Linked DNA regions of Homo sapiens. The protein of the gene in region 2 interacts with the protein of the main gene of each other region in a pairwise test. Each region holds a gene or a part of one and is shown on either strand. Other genes may lie near its edges.

Evidence for each region.
Region 1: the proteins of BFSP2 (region 2) and RNASE10 interact in binary tests that used the Homo sapiens proteins (3 or more experiments, as listed by UniProt).
Region 3: the proteins of BFSP2 (region 2) and BFSP1 interact in binary tests that used the Homo sapiens proteins (3 or more experiments, as listed by UniProt).

The regions. Positions count from the first base shown.
Region 1 is NC_000014.9:20,500,641-20,508,622, forward strand, and holds the start of RNASE10 (inactive ribonuclease-like protein 10 precursor), read left to right. Parts: upstream 1-4,896; 5' UTR 4,897-5,379; intron 5,380-7,982. UniProt on the Homo sapiens protein: Secreted proximal epididymal protein required for post-testicular sperm maturation and male fertility. May be involved in sperm adhesion to the egg zona pellucida. Does not have ribonuclease activity.
Region 2 is NC_000003.12:133,444,885-133,452,205, forward strand, and holds part of BFSP2 (phakinin), read left to right. Parts: intron 1-520; exon of another isoform or gene 521-691; intron 692-2,432; coding exon 2,433-2,515; intron 2,516-3,604; coding exon 3,605-3,761; intron 3,762-3,896; exon of another isoform or gene 3,897-4,011; intron 4,012-5,418; coding exon 5,419-5,580; intron 5,581-7,321.
Region 3 is NC_000020.11:17,528,145-17,536,397, reverse strand, and holds the start of BFSP1 (filensin), read left to right. Parts: upstream 1-5,018; 5' UTR 5,019-5,068; coding exon 5,069-5,445; intron 5,446-8,253. UniProt on the Homo sapiens protein: Required for the correct formation of lens intermediate filaments as part of a complex composed of BFSP1, BFSP2 and CRYAA. Involved in altering the calcium regulation of MIP water permeability.

The DNA.
Region 1 (7,982 bases), on a different chromosome or scaffold from region 2:
GTACGGTCTCGGCTCACTGCAACCTCCATCTCCCGGGTTCAAGCGATTCTCCTGTCTCAGCCTCCAAGTAGCTGGGATTACAGGTGCCCTCCACCAAGCCAGCTAATTTTTGTATTTTTAGTAGAGACGGGGTTTCACCATGTTGGCCAGGCAGGTCTTGAACTCCTGATCTCAGGTGATCTGCCTGCCTTGGCCTCCCAAAGTGTTGGGATTACAGGCCTGAGCCACCATGCCCGGCCAACTTGTAGTTTCTATAGACATGTTAAACTTAACGTCAACATGGGGTTGAGTTGGGTGGAGGAAGATTGCAAAGATACACACCAACGTGTAAATAACAGTAGGATGAGGGTCTTGTGTGTGTATTTGTGTGTTTCTATATACTATTACATAAAACTTCTATAATGAGCATTAACATTTTGAAAAACTTTTTATTTTGAAATAATTATAGATTCACAGAAAGTTGCAAAGATGGTACAGAGAGTCCCCATGTACCTGTCAACAGTTTTCCCCAGTGGTTATATCTCACTTAAAGAGTACAATATCAAAACCAGGAAATAAACATTAGTGTGGTGTGTGTGTGTGTGTGTGTGTGTGTGTGTGTAGTTACAAGTCATTTTATTGTGTGTTTATTCCTGTAACCACCACTGCAATCAAGATACAGAACTATTCCATCACCACAAGGATCTCCCTGGTGATACCTCTTTGTAGTCACGCGTATATCCCTATCCCCATGATCCTTGACCCTGCAACTATGAATCTGTTCTCCATGTTATGTAAATGGAATCATACAGTACATGGCTGCTTGATGATACATTTTTTTCATTTAGCATAATGCCCTTGAGATGTATCTAATTTATTGTGTGTATCAATAGTTCATTCCTTTTTACTGCTGAGTCATATTCCATGGTACATGTACCATGGTTTGCTTAATGCATCACCCATTGAAGAACATTTGGATGGTTTCCAGGTTTTGAATATTATGAAGAAAACTGCTATTTTATTTCTGTACAGGTTTTTATGTGAACATATGTTTTCATTTCTCTGGGTTAAATGCCAAGGAGTGCAATTGCTGGGTTGTATGGTAAGCATACACAGTTAGACAGAAGGAATAAGTTACAGTGTTCAATAGCACAGCAGGATGACCATAGTTATCAATAATTTATTGTATATTTCAAAATGATTAGAAGATTTGGAATGTTCTCAACACAAAGACATGATAAATGCTTGAGGTAATGGATATCCCAATTACTCTGACTTGATTATCGAACATTGTATGAATGTATCAAAACCCCACAAATATGTACAACTATTATGTATCAGTAAAAAAAGGAATCTGACAAACTGTTTTACAGAGTGGCCATAACATTTATATTTTCACCATTAATGTATGCGTGTACCCAGTTTCTCTGCCTCCTTGCCGGCAGTTGGTATTTGCGCTATTTATTCTTTTAGCCATTCTGATGGATGTGCAGTGACATCTTGTCACTCCAGATCTCTGAAGTTCTGTCTGCAATTCTGTCCTCTCTGGTACTGTGCTCTGTGAACTCCAGTTGCCTTGGCTTCCTTGGACCCCCAGTTTTATCTCCTCAGCTCAGGAAGACTGGCGGACTCTGCCTGGGTCTCCCTCTCTGTGCCACAGCCTGAAAACTCTTTCTAGGAAATAAGCTGGGAGAATTGTAGGGTTCAGTTTTAACATCAATCTTTTCTACCCCTATCTCTTTACACCTATCTATCTGTCTGTCTATCTATCTACCTATCATTTATCCACCATCTATTTATTTATCATAAATTTTTCTTAACTACAAGCCAAGGGTTTTAGTATCAGAACTGCTATTAGTTATCTGTAGCATTTGGGACATTAACTTACTTGAGCCACTTCTTTGTTGGTGAAATGAGGGTCATCTTATATCAGCCTTCTCATAATTCCTTCTGAGAGATTCCAGGATACTGGTTGACTCTTCTAGAAGATACAGTGAGCAGTGTTGGTAGCTACGGTCCTTAGTATGTGCTATTTCTAAACAGGAAAATGATATTGATTGGGTGGGTAATGAGCATGTGTTGGTAATTGCTATGTAAGAGCAATAACAACAACAACTAATACATTTAGCCTTTTACATGCAGTGTCTTATATAATATTTACAACAGCCCTGTAAAGTAAGTGCTACTATTATCCAAATTTATTCATTTTTTATTTAAAAAATTTTTTTAGTATTATAAACCACTTTATGTCCAAGAACGATTCAAATTTAGAAGACGAGAAAACTGTAGCCTAGAAAAAGAAATAAAAATGAAAATTAAAAACCTGTCCAGTCTAAAGGTTATACTTACACAGACTTAGGTTCTTTCTTTGTATTTAATTAAAGGTTAATTTCAAATGATCTCTAGTAGTAACAAAACTCTTTAGTTATAAAGAAGCAGGTGATGCATGGTTGTTGAATACATTACCCCTGCTGACCTTAGACTGCTGCTGGGCTCAGCAGATAATTCTTGATTTTCTCTTCACATTGCAAATAGACCTCACCAGAATAAATGGGCAGAATAGACACCAAAGAGGGATAGCGCAAGCAAATGTGAGGGTGAAATGCAGTCAGTGCCTTGCAAAAGGAAGTGCTCAATACTGGTAGTCGGTGTCATTGCTCTTACTGCAAATTATAAACACCAGCACTGCAAAAGTCAGCCCAGTAGACTTTGTAAATCACAGAAGTGGCTCCTAGACCACCATTTGAAAAATTCTGCCTGAAGGACTAAGGAAAACATCTTCTTTTATTTTTATTTTATTTTTTTATACCACAGTTTAGGAAAACATCTTCTTAAAAGATCGTGTTTATGTCTACAGATGATTTTTATAGTGCCTTAACAGTCTCCAGAGTGGTTTTAAAAATATTATCTCAGAATGTCAATTTCAGCTAAAGAAGTGAACCTTAGGATCAACATTGTAACCCTCCTGGTTTTATTCACCCAGAGTATAGGGACTGATAATGATAATGCTGCTTTGGATAGTCTCCTATCTAGGGCTAAATGATCAGATTTGCAAAATCCAGATATTCTTATGGGAATGTGGTTATTGGCTAGGGGAATGGAAAGAGGGAGTAGAGAGTGGAAAACTGGATAAAGTTATAGGTAAAGATATGTGAAAACTCATGATTGTCTCAAATACTCTAAATCTTGTCATAATACACTTGTAAAGTAATAATCATGTTGGAGAGATGGCCAAATAAAGGCCAAAGATCTTGACACTGCAGAAATTATAGGAGAGGATTAAAGGAAGTACATGTGGCAGATATAAGAAAAGACTAAACTTGAGATTCATGCACAAGGTCAGGCTGCATAAACCACAGGATAGCGGGTGTAACTCAGGAGCAGAACAATTGATCCATGAAACAAAACTGTCTGCAGTTTCCCAGGCTGGAGAGATTTCCCGTCTTGGATGTCTGGATCTGTCTCAGTGCCCAGATAGCCTCACTTCAAAGTGTTTGTGGGAACAGAAAGAATTGGCTGAGTGTGTTTGTTCAGTGCTAGGCGGAGGAAGTGAAACGGGGAGTGGGTTTAGGAAGTAAGTGTGTGTTTAAGAGCACGTGGACCACCAGAAGATAACCATTTTTCTTCAGACTAGCAGCCAGGGCACTGCTCACGAAGAAGGAAACCCTGGGAGGGAAGAACTTGGGGAACGAGAGGACACAAGAATCTCTGCAGCTGCTTATGCATGTACGTAAGTCACAGAGGTGTTGGGTGCCTCAAGGAACAACATGGAAGTCCTCTCTCTTTTTTAAAATAAATAATTTTTTAATAAATTTTCGAGCACTTTGGGAGGCCGAGGCGGGCGGGTCACGAGGTCGGGAGATCGAGACCATTCTGGCTAACACGGTGAAACCCCGTCTCTACTAAAAAATACAAAAAATTAGCCGGGCGCGGTGGCGGGCGCCTGTAGTCCCAGCTACTTGGGAGGCTGAGGCAGGAGAATGGCGTGAACCTGGGAGGCGGAGCTTGCAGTGAGCCGAGATCGCGCCACCGCACTCCAGCCTGGGCGACAGAGAGAGACTCCGTCTCAAAAAAAAAAAAAAAAAAAGGAATCTGTCATTACAACCTTCTCTCACAAAGAACTCCAGGCGCAGACAGCATCACCACAGCATTCTACCAACCATTTACAGGGAAAGTAATGCACGTCCACAAAACTCTTCCAGAAAGACAAGGGAGCACTCACCAGCTCCTGAGGCCAACGTAGCCTCAGTCCCTAACCCAGCAAGGACAGCAGCGGAGAGGAGCTCACAGGCCAGCCCCCGCCACACGTACACACCACTGCGAGGCTCCAAAGCTCAAGCAGCGTGTATCCAGCGAATACAACAAGAATAATGAAAAAGCGTTATCTGATCAATTGCTAGAGGAGCAGAAGTAACTCTGGCAAACCTCACTGAATGTGAATCCTGAAAGTGCCTTGATCTGCGGTTCTACAAGTTATGGTGCTGGAGGTCTCAGCCAATGCTGTAGGGTAGGACAAAGAAAGAGCTCCAGTGCCAGACAAGAAAAAGTAAAACTCTGATTGATTCACCCATGAAACAGTGTCTGTGTTTAGAAACCCCAAAAGAATATATAGACAAATCATAAGGATGAAAAAGTGAGTTTGCTCCCTCTCCCTCTCCCTCTCCCTCTCCCTCTCCCTCTCCCTCTCCCTCTCCCTCTCCCTCTCCCTCCACGGTCTCCTTCCACGGTCTCCCTCTGATGCCGAGCCAAAGCTGGACGGTACTGCTGCCATCTCGGCTCACTGCAACCTCCCTGCCTGATTCTCCTGCCTCAGCCTGCCGAGGGCCTGCGATTGCAGGCGCGCGCCACCACGCCTGACTGGTTTTCGTACTTTTTTGGTGGAGACGGGGTTTCACTGTGTTGGCCGGGCTGGTCTCCAGCTCCTAACCGCGAGTGATCCGCCAGCCTTGGCCTCCCAAGGTGCCGGGATTGCAGACGGAGTCTGGTTCACTCAGTGCTCAATGGTGCCCAGGCTGGAGTGCAGTGGCGTGATCTCAGCTCGCTACAACCTCCATCTCCCAGCCGCCTGCCTTGGCCTCCCAAAGTGCCGAGATTGCAGCCTCTGCCTGGCCGCCACCCCGTCTGGGAAGTGAGGAGCGTCTCTGCCTGGCCGCCCATCGTCTGGGATACGAGGAGCCTCTCTGCCTGGCTGCCCAGTCTGGAAAGTGAGGAGCGTCTCTGCCCGGCCGCCATCCCATCTAGGAAGCGAGGAGCGCCTCTTCCCCGCCGCCATCCCATCTAGGAAGTGAGGAGCGTCTCTGCCCGGCCGCCCATCGTCTGAGATGTGGGGAGCACCTCTGCCCCGCCGCCCTGTCTGGGATGTGAGGAGCGCCTCTGCTGGGCCGCAACCCTGTCTGGGAGGTGAGGAGCGTCTCTGCCCGGCCGCCCCGTCTGAGAAGTGAGGAAACCCTCTGCCTGGCAACCGCCCCGTCTGAGAAGTGAGGAGCCCCTCCGTCCGGCAGCCACCCCGTCTGGGAAGTGAGGAGCGTCTCCGCCCGGCAGCCACCCCGTCCGGGAGGGAGGTGGGGGGGGGTCAGCCCCCCGCCCGGCCAGCCGCCCCGTCCGGGAGGTGAGGGGCTCCTCTGCCCGGCCGCCCCTACTGGGAAGTGAGGAGCCCATCTGCCCGGCCAGCCGCCCCGTCCGGGAGGGAGGTGGGGGGGGTCAGCCCCCCGCCCGGCCAGCCGCCCAGTCCGGGAGGTGAGGGGCGCCTCTGCCCGGCCGCCCCTACTGGGAAGTGAGGAGCCCCTCTGCCCGGCCAGCCGTCCCGTCCGGGAGGGGGGAGGGGGGGTCAGCCCCCTGCCCGGCCAGCCGCCCCGTCCGGGAGGGAGGTGGTGGGGGTCAGCCCCCCGCCCGGCCAGCCGCCCTATCCAGGAGGTGAGGGGCGCCTCTGCCCGGCCGCCCCTACTGGGAAGTGAGGAGCCCCTCTGCCCGGCCAGCCGCCCAGTCCGGGAGGGAGGTGGGGGGATCAGCCCCCCGCCTGGCCAGCCGCCCAGTCCAGGAGGGAGGTGGGGGGTCAGCCCCCCGCCCGGCCAGCCGCCCCGTCCGGGAGGGAGGTGGGGGGGTCAGCCCCCCGCCCGGCCAGCCGCCCCGTCCGGGAGGGAGGTGGGGGGGGTCAGCCCCCCGCCCGGCCAGCCGCCCCGTCCGGGAGGGAGGTGGGGGGATCAGCCCCCCGCCTGGCCAGCCGCCCCGTCCGGGAGGTGAGGGGCGCCTCTGCCCGGCCGCCCCTACTGGGAAGTGAGGAGCCCCTCTGCCTGGCCAGCCGCCCCGTCCGGGAGGGGGGAGGGGGGGTCAGCCCCCCGCCCGGCCAGCCGCCCCGTCCGGGAGGGAGGTGGTGGGGGTCAGCCCCCCGCCCGGCCAGCCGCCCTGTCCGGGAGGTGAGGGGCGCCTCTGCCCGGCCGCCCCTACTGGGAAGTGAGGAGCCCCTCTGCCCGGCCAGGACCCCGTCTGGGAGGTGTGCCCAGCGGCTCATTGGGGATGGGCCATGATGACAATGGCGGTTTTGTGGAATAGAAAGGCGGGAAGGGTGGGGAAAAAATTGAGAAATCGGATGGTTGCCGGGTCTGTGTGGATAGAAGTAGACATGGGAGACTTTTCATTTTGTTCTGTACTAAGAAAAATTCTTCTGCCTTGGGATCCTGTTGATCTGTGACCTTATCCCCAACCCTGTGCTCTCTGAAACATGTGCTGTGTCCACTCAGGGTTAAATGGATTAAGGGCGGTGCAAGATGTGCTTTGTTAAACAGATGCTTGAAGGCAGCATGCTCGTTAAGAGTCATCACCACTCCCTAATCTTAAGTACCCAGGGACACAAACACTGCGGAAGGCTGCAGGGTCCTCTGCCTAGGAAAACCAGAGACCTTTGTTCACTTGTTTATCTGCTGACCTTCCCTCCACTATTGTCCTATGACCCTGCCAAATCCCCCTCTGCGAGAAACACCCAAGAATGATCAATTAAAAAAATAAATAAATAAATAAATAAAATTTTCAACTTTACAAACAAATGTGATAATAATTCATGGAACTCATGAATATTCTTTATCCAGGTACATTATTTTTTTAAACTTCCCTTATTTATTTATTTATTTATTTATTTATTTATTTATTTAGAGATAGATTCTCACTCCGGTTGCCCAGGCTGGGGTGTAGCAGTTGGATCATGGCTCACTGCAGCCTCAACTTCCTGGGCTCCAACCATCCTCCCACCTCAGCCTGCCTGGTAGCTGGAACTGAAGACACACGCCACCAAGCCAGGCTAATTTTTTCATATTTTTTGTAGAGATGGGGTTTCACCATGTTGCCCAGGCTGGTCTCAAACTCCGGGACTCAAGTGATCCACCTGCCTCGGTCTCCCAAAGCACTGGAATTGCAGGCATGAGCCACTGCGCCCAGGCCCCCTATTTATTTTTTATCATTTTCTCTCTCTCTCTGTAAACACACACATGTATACATATCCATATATCTATATTCCGAAGCATTTGAGAGTATATTGCATATGTTGTGCTCTTTTCCTGCTTAATATTTCAGTGTGCATCTCCTAAGAAGAAGGATATTTTCTTAAACAATCAGGGTACAGTTTTACATTCAGTATATCAAATACATATATACAGTGATTCTCCCTACCCAAAGTTTCAGTTACCCATGGTCAACGACGGTCTGAAACTATTAAATGGCAAATTCCAGAAATAAACAATTCATAATTTAATGTTGCATGCTGTTCTGAGTAATGTGATGAAATCTCTCACCGTCTCACTCCATCCTGCCTGGGATGTGAACCATCCCTTTGTCCAGCGTGTCCATGTTGTAGACACCACCCACCCATTAGCTACTTAGTGGCCAATATCAGATGCACCGTCACAGTATCTCAGCGCCTGTGTTCACATAACCCTTATTTTACCTAGTAATAGCCGCAAAGTGCAAGAATGATGATGCTGGCAATTCAGACACGTCAAAAAGAACCCGTAAAG
Region 2 (7,321 bases):
ACAGTAGTCAGAGGGTCCACTTAGTGCACAGATCACCTCTGTAACCTGCTCAAGCCCTTTCAAAGGCTTCCCAGTAAATCTCAACTCCTTTCCATTGTGCCCAAGGCCTTCCCTCTATGGTCTGGTCTTGTCTACCTTTTTAACCTCATCTCCTACAGTAGCGGCTGGTTTCTCAACAAACAGGACAGAGCCTGGCATAAACAGTAATTATGTGCTGAAGAAATTAAGGCAAGAATGAATGAGTGAATAAATAGAAAAGTTTCATGGGGAAGCCGTGTTTGAAATGAGCATTATACTGGAGCAGGCTTTCTCAGACTGAGGGCTGGGAGTGGGGAGGTAGTGAAACAAGTTGCTCTCAATGGAGGCAGCAGGTGCAAAGGCACAGAGGGATTCCAGGTGCAGCAGGGAGGCAGCTAGAGCAGGCCTGGGGGCAGGGCCATGTGAAACCGGGGTTCTCAAGGTTGAGTATGCATCATAAGCCCCTGGAAAGCTTGCTGAGACACAAATTGTTGGGACCCACCTGCAGAGATTCTGATAGGTCCATCTGAAACAGGAGCTGAAAAGTGCATTTCTCACAAGTTCCCAGGTGATGCTGCTGCCACTGGTCCAGGGCCCACACTTTGAGAACCACTAGTGCAAAGTACAGTCAGTCCTTCACATCCATGGGTTCCACATCCATGGATTCAACCAACTGTAGATCAAAATATTTTTTAAAAAATAGATGATTGCGTTTATACTGAACATGTGGGCTTTTTTCTTGTCATTATTTTCTAAATAACACAATAAATAACAACTATGTACATAGCATTTCCATTGTATTGGGTATCATAAGTAATCTTGAGATGATTTAAAGTATATGGAAGGATGTGTGTGTAGGTTATATGCAAATACTACATCATTTTATATAAGAGACTTGAGCATCCGTGGGGGACTGGAACCAAGACCCCATAGATACCAAAGGACAACTGTACATAGGTTTTCTATAAGCTTTAATTTTGGAGGGTAGGAATTGTTACCTTAAAAGAAGGATATAAATCACTATTTTAAGCCAATATTAGTCCTTTGATACTTAAATGTGAATGAGTTGCAAGTTCTTTATCAACCAGAAGGAGAACTCCAGGCACCAGAGGTGAGAGACAGGAGTGATTAAGAACTGGGAAAGGGAGACACCCTAGTCTGCCTGCTCCCCAGTGTGCCCCAGGCCAAGCTGGAACAGAAATGATTAGCTTTGCTAGTGGGGAATTCAATGAAAATGGCAGGGTTTGGTGGCTTACACCTGTAACCCCAGGACTCTGGGAGGCCAAGATGGGTGGATAATTTGAGGTCAGGAGTTCGAGACCAGCCTGGCCAACATGGTGAAACCCCATCTCTATTAAAAATACAAAAATTAGCTGGGCGCAGTGGCACATGCCTGTAATCCCAGCTACTCAGGAGGCTGAGGCACGAGAATATCTTGAATCTGGGAGGCAGAGGTTGCAGTGAGCAGATATTGTGCCACTGCACTCCAGCCTGGGCAACAAAGCAAGACTCTGTCTCAAAGAAAAAACAAAAAAAGTAATTCAATGAAATGAAACAAAATAAGACAGCCACACTGGAGCAAGGGGAAAGCAGTTATTTTCTTCTCCCATAGCTGGGATTTGGCTCCACCCTGCAGGCTCCCCCTATCAGAGCCTTCAGCTCACCATTTATATATATATATATATATATATATATATATATATATATATATATATATATATATATATATATATATATAAAGGAGTTTCTTGGGTTGAAGGGAGGACACCCCTCATTCCCTACCTGTGGGAGATCCTGAGAGGCTTGGGGATTCAAGTTTGAAAAACCACTCCTCAAGGCTCCATGAAACCCCTAAACTATATCCACAATGTTTATGTTCACGTGTATGTTTTGGGGGAGACGAAACTCTAGAGCCACGCTGCCCAATACGGTAGCCACGGGTGGCCACCATGCTGGACAGTGCAGACAGAGCATTTCCACCGTCACAGGAAGCTCTCTCAGCACTCATCTAGAGCTTTCACCAGCCTTCCAAAGGCATCCATGACCAGAAATTTTAAGAGCTGCTAGGCAAAGCCAGTGAAACTTCATCTAAGGAGCCGGACTCTGCCCTGGAGAGATGAAAGCTTGTCACTGTGACAGAGGCTATGAACAAGTCTGCCTTTGAATAGTCTTTTTGTGCCAAAAATCCCACTCTAAAAACTCTTAGAAGATATCCAGATTTTATGCCTTATTATTTATATCCCCCCACCCTGACCATTGTCCAAAGAGAGGGACATCTTAATTCCACAAATATTTGCTGTAAGAAAGGTTCTCTGAGGTCCCCCAGAGCCTCTGTGCCTAACACAAGTCATGGTGGTAAGTGATCTTGACGCTCCCAGTGACCTTGTCTCCTTTGGTGTGTGTGATCGCTCTAGGTGGGTGAGGCAGTCTTGGAAAATGCCCGGCTCATGCTGCAGACAGAAACTATCCAGGCCGGAGCAGATGACTTTAAAGAGAGGTAATGTCTTACAGCAGAGGCGACAGTCCCTCCACATCCCTAGACTCCTAGGCAAGTGTGGATAATGCTGTTCTGGAGCCTGCATCATCCACCTTCTACCTCAGGGGAAGCTGGCAGGATAACAGAGCCATGATTATCCAGCTCACACCCCTCCTTGTAAACATAAAGTAGGCCCCAAGGGCTCAAAGATTTTGCCCACTGTCAGTTGGTTTAGAGCAGGGTTCTCAAACTCTGGAATGCTCAGAATCACCCAGGGGCCATATAGAAAACAGAGATTGCTGCGCCCCACCCTGTTGAATTTCTGACTCAATGGGTCTGGAGAAGGGCCCCAAATTTATATTCCTAACAAGTTCCCAGGGATGCTGATCCTGCTGGTCCTGGGACTCAAATACTTTGAGAACTACTAGCTTACAGTAATGATTCTCCAACCTGGGCATATCAGAATTACCTGGGCACTTAAAAATGTCAGTGCAGTGCACAAGCCATAGACTAATTAAATCAGAGTCCCCAGGGGTTGGGTCCAGGCTTCAGCAGTTTTAGAGCTCACCAGGTGACTTAATGTGCATCCAGGCTTGAGAACCGTGCTCAGCTACACCTCCCACTCAGTCCCTGAAGGCATCTGGGTTTGCAGCCACTCTCCTGGAGATGGACACTTTTAACATGGGTGCTTTGGAGACAGAAACCACATTTCTTATTTTGGGGTCCCCACCCTGGTGCTTAGCAGGTTGTCAGTAATGTTTGTTAAAGGATCCTTGGTTGAAAAGGAGGACAATCAGGATAGCGATGAAGATGCCGGATCCCCTAACCTGGATCTGAACTCCTGAGTTTTCCCTGGAGTTCTGTGTTGCAACACTCCCATGAGGCTGGTAGCCCGGGAAGCCAGGTTATCAGAAGTTGGCTGCAATTGCCTTCATTTTAATAAATCAATGTGTGACAACTGCACTAACAGTGCCCTCAAATCTATTGAAACAGTGACTTTTACCATTCATTGTCTAACTATCACATAATTGGCCTGTTGGTAACATTTATAATCTGATTCTTTTTCTTTTGGGCTACTCAGTTATGCTAATTAAGTTCCTTTATCTGCAGATATGAAAATGAGCAGCCATTTCGAAAGGCGGCAGAAGAGGAAATTAACTCTCTGTATAAAGTCATTGATGAGGCTAATTTGACTAAAATGGACCTGGAGAGTCAAATAGAAAGTCTGAAAGAAGAACTTGGCTCTCTATCAAGAAACTATGAAGAGGTAGGAGGGGGCTGGGGTTGCTGGGTTGGCCACAAGACCAGAAGTTCACATCTGTCTGCCTGTGCTTCATAACAAGGCCACAGTAGCTCATTTCTGACTCTCCACATTGCGTGCCCAGGACTGCAGGGAACATACCTGTAAAATACTTTCAGATCCTTGAAGTGGGTCAGGTTACCCCAGCAGTCTCAAACTCAAATAGCTTCAGGAACCAGTGTGGTACAGAAACAGGGGAAGGCAGCCAGTCTTGGCACTAGCAAATGAGGGAACTTGTGTTAAATTAGAGGGAGCAACCCCTCCTCAATGCATTCTATGTCAGGTTTTTTTTTCAACACTGTATTATACAAACAAAACAACTCTGAGGGTAGATCCAAGCTGTGGTTGACATCTACTCATTAACAAAACTGGGTCAGATTATTGAGTGACAGAACTGAAGAGGACCTCCAACAGTTATGGGGTCTAGTTCCCTGCGAGACTTCAGCAATTCTAAACCACCTCACACATATTACTGTCTGATCCAAGATTTAGGCTGCTTCAAGTTGAAAGAGTCAAAACCCACTTAACGATGCTCACATTGGGAAGTTCTTTCTTGAGACCAACTTAAGCTAACCAGCAACTGTAAGCCCATTTCTTCTTGTTCTTAGCTCAGTGATTTAAGACTACTCTCCAACAGTAACCATTTAGAGATGCCAAAGTTATCTTTTAAGTCTCTTTCATCCTTGTCTGGCTTTATGCATAAATGCCCTGTGCTGTTGTTGCTTACTTTGTTTTTGTTTTTGTTTTTGTTTTATTTTACTTTAAGTTTTAGGGTACATGTGCACAATGTGCAGGTTAGTTACATATGTATACATGTGGTTTTTTGTTTGTTTGTTTGTTTGTTTGTTTGTTTGTTTTATTTTGATTTCTGCTTTGGGCCTGGGCTTGTGGAGACCAACCTAAGAAATGCATCCTTGGTGCTAGGCATGGTGGTTCAAGCCTGTAATCCCAGCACTTTGAGAGGCCAAGGCAGGGGATCACTTGAGCCCAGGAGTTCAAGACCAGCCTGGGCAACATGGTGAAACCCTGTCTCCACTAAAAATACAAAAATTAGCTGGGCATGGTGGTGTGTGCCGTGCCTGTGCCTGTAGTCTCAGCTACTCAGGAGACTGAGGTGGGAGGACTGTTTGAGCCCAAGAGATGGAGGCTGCAATGAGCTGAGATCATGTCACTGCACTCCAGCCTGGGTGACAGAGTGAGACCCTGTCAAAAAAAAGAAGGAAGGAAGGAAGGAGAGAGAGAGAGGAAGACAGACGGAAAGAAAGAGAGAAAGAGAGAGAGAAAGAGAAAGAAGGAAAGAAGGAAAGGAAGGAAGGAAGGAAGGAAGGAAGGAAGGAAGGAGGGAGGGAGGGGGAGGGAAGGAGGGAGGAAGAAAGAAAGAGAGAGAAGGAAAGGAAGGAAGGAAGGAAGGGAGGGAGAGAGGGAGAAATGCATCCTTGGGAAAAGAGAAATTACACTTACGCTGGGAAGAAGGTCAGGGACTTTCCCAGTCTCTGTGAAGCCTGTGTCTGGCAGTTGTGGAATGAGAAAAGAATTGCCCACAGAGCTGGTTTTCTGCTGGCTAGAATTCTATGCCATTTATTTCCCCCCGTAACTCATCTAAGATGTATATTGTTGTTTTCAGGATGTGAAGCTGCTGCACAAACAGTTGGCAGGGTGTGAGCTGGAACAAATGGATGCTCCCATTGGCACTGGTCTGGACGACATCCTTGAGACGATCAGAATTCAGTGGGAGAGAGATGTTGAAAAGAACCGGGTGGAGGCAGGAGCCCTGCTCCAAGCTAAGGTGAGAGGCAGGACCAGCATCCTCCACTCTGCCCTATGCAGAAGGAGGCCACGCTGAGCTGCAAACTAGTCAATGTGCAGACGAAGAAATAACAACGGTTTAGTAACAAGTTCAACCTCATTAGAAACAGAAGAAATGAAAATTAAAATAATAGCTTTTTGTTTACCTATCTAAAAGTAGAAAATGTTTAAAATGGTAAAAATGCTGGCAAGTATGTGGAGAAGTAGGTTCTCTACTGTATTACTGAAGAGCATAAACTAGTGCACTGCCTTTGAATAAGAAATTTAGTAATATGCACCAAGAGTGTTAAAATGCCCCTAGCTACCAACTGAATAATCTGAATACAATCCTGAAAGAATAATTGAGGCCGGGCGTGGTAGCTCACGCCTGTAATCCCAGCACTTTGGGAGGCCAAGGCGGGCGGATCATGAGGTCAGGAGATCGATACCATCCTGGCTAACAGGGTGAAACACTGTCTCTACTAAAAATACAAAAAATTAGCCGGACGCATTGGCAGGTGCCTGTAGTCCCCGCTACTCGGGAGGCTGAGGCAGGAGAATGGTGTGAACCTGGGAGGCGGAGCTTGTAGTGAGCCAAGATTGGGCCACTGCACTCCAGCCTGGGCAACAGAGCAAGACTCTGTCTCAAAAAAAAAAAAAAAAAAAGAATATTTGAAAAAATAAATCATCTGTGTCCAAATATACTCACTGAAGCATTATAAGAGTGAAAAAAACATACACATTTACTAGTAGAAGAAAATCTAAGCCACAACCTACCTATGTGCAGTAAAATATCAGGCAGTTATTAGAATTAATGTTTATGAAGCATTTATAAAATAGGAATGTGTTCATAATATGAGGTAAAATGAGGAGAAAATGAGAGTACAGAATGGTATATGCCAGAAGCCAAAAAATATTCTCTGTAAAGGACCAAACAGTAAATATTTCAGGCTTCTTGGGCCAGATGGCCTCTGTTGTAACTCCTCAGCGCTGCCACTGCAGTGTAAAAGCAGCTGTAGCCAATAGGTAGCTAATGAGCATAGCTGTGTTCCAATAAAACTTTATTTACAAAAATAAGCGGTGAGATGGATTTGGCCTGTGGACTGCAGTTTGCCACTTCCTGGTATATACAGTAGGGTAAAGCATTCAAACAAAGAAACTAGGCATTGAGAAAAAATTTTAGAAAGAAAAGACTAAAATGGGATTAGCAGTCGTTGCCTTTGAGTGATGGATCAGTCTGACACTTTGAGATGTTTTTTCTTTTTTGTTTTTGAGTATTTCTCAAGTTTTTGTTAAATAGTATACATTATATTCATGGAAGAAAAACAACTTTTATTAAACCTCATAAATAATACAGGAATTAACCAGAAAATAGGATGCATAGGGTTTGTTCTTCCCTTCTCCATCTCCCACCCATTTCTGACTTTGTAATCTTGAGACAGAGGATGAAAAGTGACAAGGAAGGAAAATGTGGAAAAGTAGAGAAAATAAGGTAGATGTCTGAGTTAAGGCAAAAGGCTGTTTCTGAGCTCTTGATTACTATTTAGTGGTTCTTGATCCTGGCTACGCAGCAGAATTATTTCAGAGCATTTTCAAAAATCGCCATCCCAGACCAACCAAATCAGACAGAGGAGAGGGACTTTGTGATTTTTAAAGCTCTCTGGATGATTCTAATATGCAGCCAGATTTGAGAACCATAAGAATTATAAAAAGCTATGAAAAGAAAAATAGGAGAGGCTTTT
Region 3 (8,253 bases), on a different chromosome or scaffold from region 2:
TATATTTTTTGTCGACATGGGGTTTCACGATGTTGCCCAGGCTGGTCTTGAACTTCCGGGCTCAAGCAGTCCACCCGCCTTGGCCTCCCAAAGTGCTGGGATTGTAGGTATGAGCCACTTCACCCAGCCTTAAACAACTTTAAATGGAATAAAAGATATGATGAACATTAAACCTGGCATATTTCACTAATTTCTGATATTTTTGTACTGCTAAAATTACCATGCATCTGGTATTTTGCTTTTCTTTTCCCCTTCAAGTTTGTTATAAGCATTTTTATTTATATCATAGTATATTCCACAAGGTTAAAATTGTTTGGTGGGGCCAGGTGTGCTAACTCTTACCTGTGATCCCAGCACTTTGGGAGGCTGAGGCAGGAGGATTGCTTGAGGGCAGGGAGTTCGAGACCAGTGTGGGTAACATAGCAAGACCCTGTTTTTTTAAAAAAATAAATACATAAATAAAATAAATAAGTAAAATTGTTCAATGGTTATAGCCCATTTTCTCCTATTGTTACTGCAGTTTGCTAAGCCATTCTCCTCTCTGCACCTCTCCCTCTCTTAGCCATTATACATATATATAGCTATAACATAAAGCAAGTAATATTTATTAAATGTCTATACTGCAAAGGTGATCACACTTTTTGCAGGTGTTTTGGAAAATAATTTCAAACTTTCTAGGAAAAATGGCAAGAATAGTACAAACAACCCAGATTCACCTCTTAATATTTTGTCTAATTTCCTTACTATCTCTCATACTTATTTATGTTTATATTTATACATGTCATTTTATTCAGAATCATTTGAGAATAAGTTGCATACATCATGGGTCTTTGCTCCTAGATAGTTCAGAGTATATTTTCCTTTTTTTGAGATGAAGTCTCGCTCTGTTGCCAGGCTGGAGTGCATTGGCATTATCTCGACTCACTGCAACCTCTGCCTCCTGGGTTCAAGTGATTCTCCTGCCTCAGCCTCCCAAGTAGCTGGGACTACAGGTGTGTAGCACCATGCCTTGCTAATTTTTTTGTATTTTTAGTACAGATGGGGTTTCACCATGTTGGCTAGGATGGTCTTGAACTCCTGACCTCATGATCCGCCCACCTTGGTCTCCCAAAGTGCTGGGATTACAGGCGTGAGCCACCGTGCCCAGCCTGAGCCCTCAGAGTGTATTTTCTAAGAATAATGATATTATTTTACATAGCTGTAGCATAGTCATAAACTTCAGTAAATTTAATCTTGATACAATTTTATGTTCTAATCTACTATTTATATTCTAATTTTGTTAATGAACCTAGTGATAACCTTTATAGCAGTTTTTCTCCTCCAATACAAGATCCAGTCTAGGATCCATATTGCATTTATTTATTTATTTTTATTTTTGAGATGGAGTCTCACTCTGTCACCTAGGTTGGAGTGCAGTGGCGTGATATTGGCTCACTGCAACCTCTACCCCTCCGGATTCAAGGAATTCTCATGTCTCAGCCTCCCGAGTAGCTGGGACTACAGGCACAAGCCACGACGTCCGGCTAATTTTTTGTATTATTAGTAGAGATGGGGTTTCACCATGTTGGCCAGGCTGGTCTCGAACTCCTGACCTCAGATGATCCACCCACCTCAGCCTCCAAAGTGCTAGGATTACAGGCATGAGCCACCACACTCGGCCCTATACTGCATTTAGATGTCCTGTCTCTTCAGTCTCCTTTAATCTGGAACATTTTCATAGCTTCTCTTTGTCTTTTATGATATTAACATTTTTATAGAATACCATCCCCCTTCTGTTTTTATTAATAGGATGTTCCTTCTTTGGGATTTATCTGGATGATTCCTTATGGTCAGATATAGGCTACATATTCAGGTTATGCAGGCCAGATAAAAGACGTGTATTTCTCAGACAAACCAAGATACCCTTGAGAGTGAAAGATGGTGCTTGCTATATTTACGCTGAGATAGTGGGTGTAAATGTGTCTTAGGCAAACTGGGATGTGTGGTTACCCTACTTACATAAGTGATTATTCTCATTTTACCAGTCTCCATACTGGGACTAGATAGGTTAAATCACTTACTGAAGTGATGGGACCAGAACTTAACCTCAGATCTTTCTTATTCTAAAACATCCATTTCCTGTCCCTGCCCCCAAACTAGTGCCATTCAACTGTATTTAGAGTAACTCTTCCATAGCTGACCTTTCATCAAGTCCTGTGGAATCTATCTCTACGAACATGTCTCTTGAATTAACAAATTCATTCAGCAATGATTTCTTCCTTATGCATACGATCTCTACTCCTACTGAATGGTCTCCTATCAGTGATATGGTCTTTAGGGCTGTTGACAAATATTGCACACTCCTTCTAAGCACATAGCAGGATTGCATTTCCCAGTGCACCTGAAGTTAGACAATACAACCACAGCATTTTGCTAAGATCTTTATTTTAGAAGTTGTCCAGATTATCTTGTGTTTTCATTAGTCAGTATGGATTCGCCTCCTGCACCCTGAGGGCAGAGACTTGATTTTGTGCAATATTTAACTCTGAGGCTACGCTTTGTGAGGAGATATTTTCTGAGTGTTTATTTCACTGGATTAAATTGAAAGAATTTTTTGTTATGTTTCTAGAATATATTTTTCTCAAATGGTATTGCCATGTGTGGTCGATTGAGTTGTGGGTCCTGATTCTCCACTCCAGCATGATGGGATTATCCACCCACACCCTTGCCAGGGCCTCAGGCTGAGCCCTGCCTCCTCCTTGCTTCCTCTTGACTTTATTTGTGGCCATGTGATTTGCTTTGACCAATGAGATGTCAGCAGACATGATGCAAACAAAGGCCTGGGATGAGCTTGTGTGGCTGGGCTTGCTCTTGTGCTTTTTTCATTGCTAGTTTAGAAGCTTGAGGGACATTGGGAGCAGAGCAGCCCCTGCTGAAAGGAGACCTACAGCTGGAAGACAGCTGAGCTCCCAGCCCCAGGGAATGCAGTGATAAATACTTCTATTTTGTTCTGTAGCAATATTTGACTGATACATGGTATCATAGGGAACAAATGATTTTATAACTCTTGCTATATGTTGGTTTTGCTCTCGTGAGGAAGCCTGAAGTCAATTTACCATGCTATCAGCATGGTATATGTGCACCTACAAAAATATTCATGTGGTTATCCTCAATTTGACCATACAATTACATTTTATGTATTTTTATTTATTATTTTTATTTTTATAAATAAAAGAAATGGGGGTCTCACTATGTTGCCAAGGCTCGTCTTGAACTCCTGGCCTCAAGAGATCCTCCCACTTTGGCCTCCCAAAGTTCTGGATTAGAGGTGTGGTCCACTGCACCTGGCCAAATCTAATTTTAAATGGTTTAAGAAAATAGAACAATAACCATGCCACCAGCACAGTTTAGGGCCTTGCAGAGCTTTATTCCAGACGGAATCTATTATCTTGAGGTAATATTTTGGTGTAATAATAAACTCCACAAAGATCTGTGTAATTTTCTTTCTCTATCTTTGATAACTATGACTTTAATTTGTAGTATAATCACACACAATCCATATAGTTAGTAATTATATGGTACTACTAATCCTTTTAAGAAAACAACCCTTTTGATACTTATTTTTAAAGTTGGAGATATGACAAAATATTTACATTCAGAAACATTCTCATCAAGTGGTATTAATTTCTTTTCTTAAATTTACTTTTAAATTTGTCAAAGTCTAGCTATTAATTATATATATATATTTTAAAAGCTTGTCCTTAAAATCCAACTATTAGTTCCATAATAAAAATTAAAATGGAACATAATGGCACAAAATCCTTTATTATTCTCGAATTGAGGGTTGGCCAATTAATGGCGGATCACTTGAGCCCAGGAGTTTGAGTCCTGCCTGGGCAACATAGCAAGACCCCATCTCATTTTTTATTAAAATTTTTTTGTATTACATTTTATGTTAAAAAAAGAAAAAGAAAAAAGCAATCTTTTTTTCTTTTTCTTTTTTTTTTTTTTTTTGAGACGGAGTCTCACTCTGTTACCCAGGCTGGAGTGCAGTGGGGCGATCTCGGCTCACTGCAGCCTCCGCCTCCCAGGTTCCAGCGATTCTCCTGCCTCAGCCTCCCAGGTAGCTGGGATTACTGGCACACGCCACCACGCCTGGCTAATTTTGGTATTTTTAGTAGAGACGGAGTTTCACCATGTTGGCCAGGCTGGCCTCGAACTCAGGTGATCCGCCCGCCTCGGCCTCCCAAAGTGCTAGGATTACAGGCGTGAACCACCTATTACAGGCCCATGGGTGGGGCTCTATTTGTTTTTTCCATTCAAGAAAGCATGTCAAACTCCATCAGAGCATGGGTGAATTATAAAAACATAACCGTGCATGTCTCCTAAGTTATTGTAGGCTTTTATGCACGGGTATTACTAAGAAATTACTTGCGCCACACCTCACTACTTAATGGAGACATGCCATTTTATTTTGCATCCATGGTTAAGAACCTCTGCTATACAGAAGGGTCCTAAACGTCATGTTATGATTATGAAAAAGAATTGCATGCATAACCGAGCAATTGGAAATAAAAAAGACCAAAAGAAAAAAAAAAGAATTGCTTAAGTAATCAGAAAAAAAAAATGGCATTGTTAAAGAGTTCTACAATTGAGTTTGAATGCAAGAGGAGACAAAGTGACAAGCCCTGGGCTCTTGAGCTAGTCCAAGTTTAAAGAGTTCGCTTGGGGATTCCTTCACAGTCCCCAGTGGAACCAGTGAAAAGAGCGTCATGGCTCCCGTGTCCCCTGACCCTCCATTCAATCAAAAGCAACAGGCCTGAACAATCACGGAACAAAAACCTCATTGCCCAGCGTAACCTTCCAACCCCGGAGCTGTATGGGCCGCTAATCCGCCGCACAAAGCGGGCCGCTGCTCTTTTCTTCTCCCGCGCCCGGGCCCAGCGTGGCGCCCAACTGCTGATCGGCTCTGGAACGTCCCAGCAGCGCGCCGGGGGCCTCCGGTGTTTATTTAGCGGGCTGCGGGCTGCGCCGGGGGCCTCCTGGAGAGCCGGCTCGGCGCCGCCCGCGCGCCCGCGCCAGAGCAGCCATGTACCGGCGCAGCTACGTCTTCCAGACCCGCAAGGAGCAGTACGAGCACGCCGACGAGGCTTCGCGCGCCGCCGAGCCCGAGCGCCCGGCCGACGAGGGCTGGGCTGGGGCAACGAGCCTGGCGGCGCTGCAGGGGCTCGGCGAGCGCGTGGCCGCCCACGTCCAGCGGGCCCGCGCCCTCGAGCAGCGCCATGCCGGGCTCCGGAGGCAGCTGGATGCCTTCCAGCGCCTGGGCGAGCTGGCCGGGCCCGAGGACGCCCTCGCCCGCCAAGTCGAGAGCAACCGCCAGCGCGTCCGGGACCTGGAGGCCGAGCGCGCCCGGCTGGAGCGCCAGGGCACCGAGGCGCAGCGCGCGCTCGACGAGTTCCGAAGCAAGTAAGCGGCGGCCATCGGGGGAAACCGAGGCAGGGCGTGGGCCGTCCCGGCGGCGCGGGGCTGGGAGCACGCTGCTACCATGCAGGGGTGGAGCGCCGTCTCTGGTCCCCTGTCGATCGATGACCTCATCCCTGCACGCAGGTGGCACATTTCCTTAAGCTAAGACTGGCTTCTGTTTTGATGGCACGTCACAGTTTACACGAAGTTGTATCATTTACTTTTCATCTATTTTTAAATTTTGGTATAACTTACATGTTATAAAATGCACAGATTTGAAGTGCATAGTTCAGTGAGTTTTGACAAATGTATATACCCGTGTTACCACGAAAACAAGTGAGATATTTCCACTACCCCTGAAAGTTCCCTCCTCCCCTTTCCCAGTCAGTCCCCTTTGCCCCAGACCGGAGGCACCCATTCTGATTTCTATCACCATAGATTGACTTTGCCTATTCTACAGTTCCACAAAAATAGAATCTTACGGGATGTACTCTATTGTCTGGCTTCTTTTGCTCAGCACATTGGTTTTGAGATGTACCGATGTTATTTAATCCTTACATACTTATCTTTACTGCACCTGTTTTACAGATGAGGCGACTGAGGCTCAGAAAATGTAGGGATTTGGCCAGCAAGGCCCCTCAGCTGGCGAACTGCTGTCCCGGGACTGGAATTTAGGTCCTGGGCATGCTAAGTCTAATTGCCTTCATGGCATAGCAGCTGACACCTGGGAATTATGCTCAGTATGTGTCCTCTAGTGTCTTGATACTCAAAGTGCGGTCCATGGACCAGCAGTATTGGCATCACCCGGGAGTTTGCTAGAAATACAGATTCTTGGGCCCACCCTAGAACTCCAGAATCAGAATCTGCATTTTAACAAGCTCCCCAGGTGATTTTCAGTTTAAAAAGTTAAATGTTGACTAAGCAGCACTGGTCCAGGGCATGGTCTCCCCTCCCACAGATTGAGTAATGTGTTAAAATCACATAGGAGCTGTTAAAAAAAAGATGCAATTTGTCAACATTTTTTCAAGTTATAAATGTGTGTGCTCTTTGACTCAGAAGGCTACTTTGAGGAATGTATTATAGGATGCACTCCAGCAGGTGTGCAATGGCATGCCTCCACCAATACTGCAGCAGGTACACTCCAGCAGGTGTGCAATGGCATGGCTGCAAAGATACTCACTGCAACAGGTACACTCCAGCAGGTGTGCAATGGCATGCCTGCAAAGATACTCACTGCAGCAGGATCTGCAATAAGCCTGGAACCAAATAAATGCCCATTAAAAGGAGACAGGTGCTTCCTCCATGTAATGGAATACTATGCAGTGGAAAAAAGTATGTTATTGTCATGTAGTCTTTTAAAAGGGGAGGAGAGTAGAGTTTTTTTTTTGCTTGCATAAAAAGAATTTCAGGACACACACAAAGACACACACACACAGACACACACACAGGCACATGCCCCAATGACACTGGCTACCTGAGGGAGATAAGTGAGTAGGAACTGAGCAATTGGGAGACAGAGGTGGGAAGGAGACTTTTAACAGAACATCTTTTTATATCTTTAAAAAAATTATTTAACTATGGGCTGGGTGCAGTGGCTCACGCCTGTAATCCCAGCACTTTGGGAGGCCAAGGCAGGCAGAACACTTGAGGTCAGGAGTTCCAGACCAGCCTGGCCAACATTGTGAAACCCTGTGTCTACTTTAAAAAATACAAAAATTAGCTGGGTGTAGTGGCACACGCCTGTAGTTCCAGCTACCCGGGAGGCTGAGGCAGGAGAATCACTTGAATCTGGGAGGCGGAGGCTGCAGTGAGCTGAGATTGCGCCACTGCACTCCAGCCTGGGTGACAGAGTGAGACTCTGTCTCACACACACACACACACACACACACACTTATTTAACCATGTAAGATATTCATCCATTTAAAATTACATAAATGAATTTTAAAATACAGATGTCTAGGCTCTACCCTGGACCTCAAGAGGGGCCCAGAAGCTTAAACATTTTTAATGAGTGCCACTGGTCATTCCAGCCAGATTTGGGAACCCTTGGCATAGGGTAGTCAGAGGATTTCTGTAAACCTGCTCTATGTTTGAGTTCCAGTTTCTCAATCTGAATCTTGGGCAGGTTATTCATTGTTGTGTTCTGAACACATTTATCAAATCACATTTATTGATTCGATTCCTGTCAGCTCTTTTGTCTTGGGGTTTAATCTGTAGAAACAGACTTGGAGCTGGTAGAAGGGACCTGAAAATCCACTTGTTACAGAACTTCATGGGGAAACTGAGCCTGGGAGAGGGCCTGTGGGTGGCAGAACTTGAACCTGGGTTTTCTCACCCTGGGCCTATGCTCTTTCGGGAACACTGTATCTTGAGATAATCCGTTCTTGGACTCCTGCAGCCTAAGGCCCAGAAATAGGACCTCATTCAGATGAAGCTCATGTTCTCCAAAGCAAAGGGGGAAAGTGCCCTGTGGCTCAGACATCCGGGGCAGCTTGATGGACCATCAAGATTCCCTGGATGGCCTTTGTGTTGGCATTAGACCATAGTCTACTGTACTTTGGCTGGTAAGCATGACATCCATGAGTCCTAGTTGAAGGAAAGGCCATGTTGGGTTTTCCTGGTCTTTACTGATTGCACTTGGTTCTGAGTTATATGCCCATCATGAAGCAGTTCCATCAGGCTCTGTGATTTATTTAAAATTCATATTAATTTATTCCCTCCCTTTGCCCCCTTGGAGAAGTTTTGACATTTGGATTGTGGTAGTGGGAACTGAAAATCATTATAGAAATGCTCATCCACATCCATAGGCAC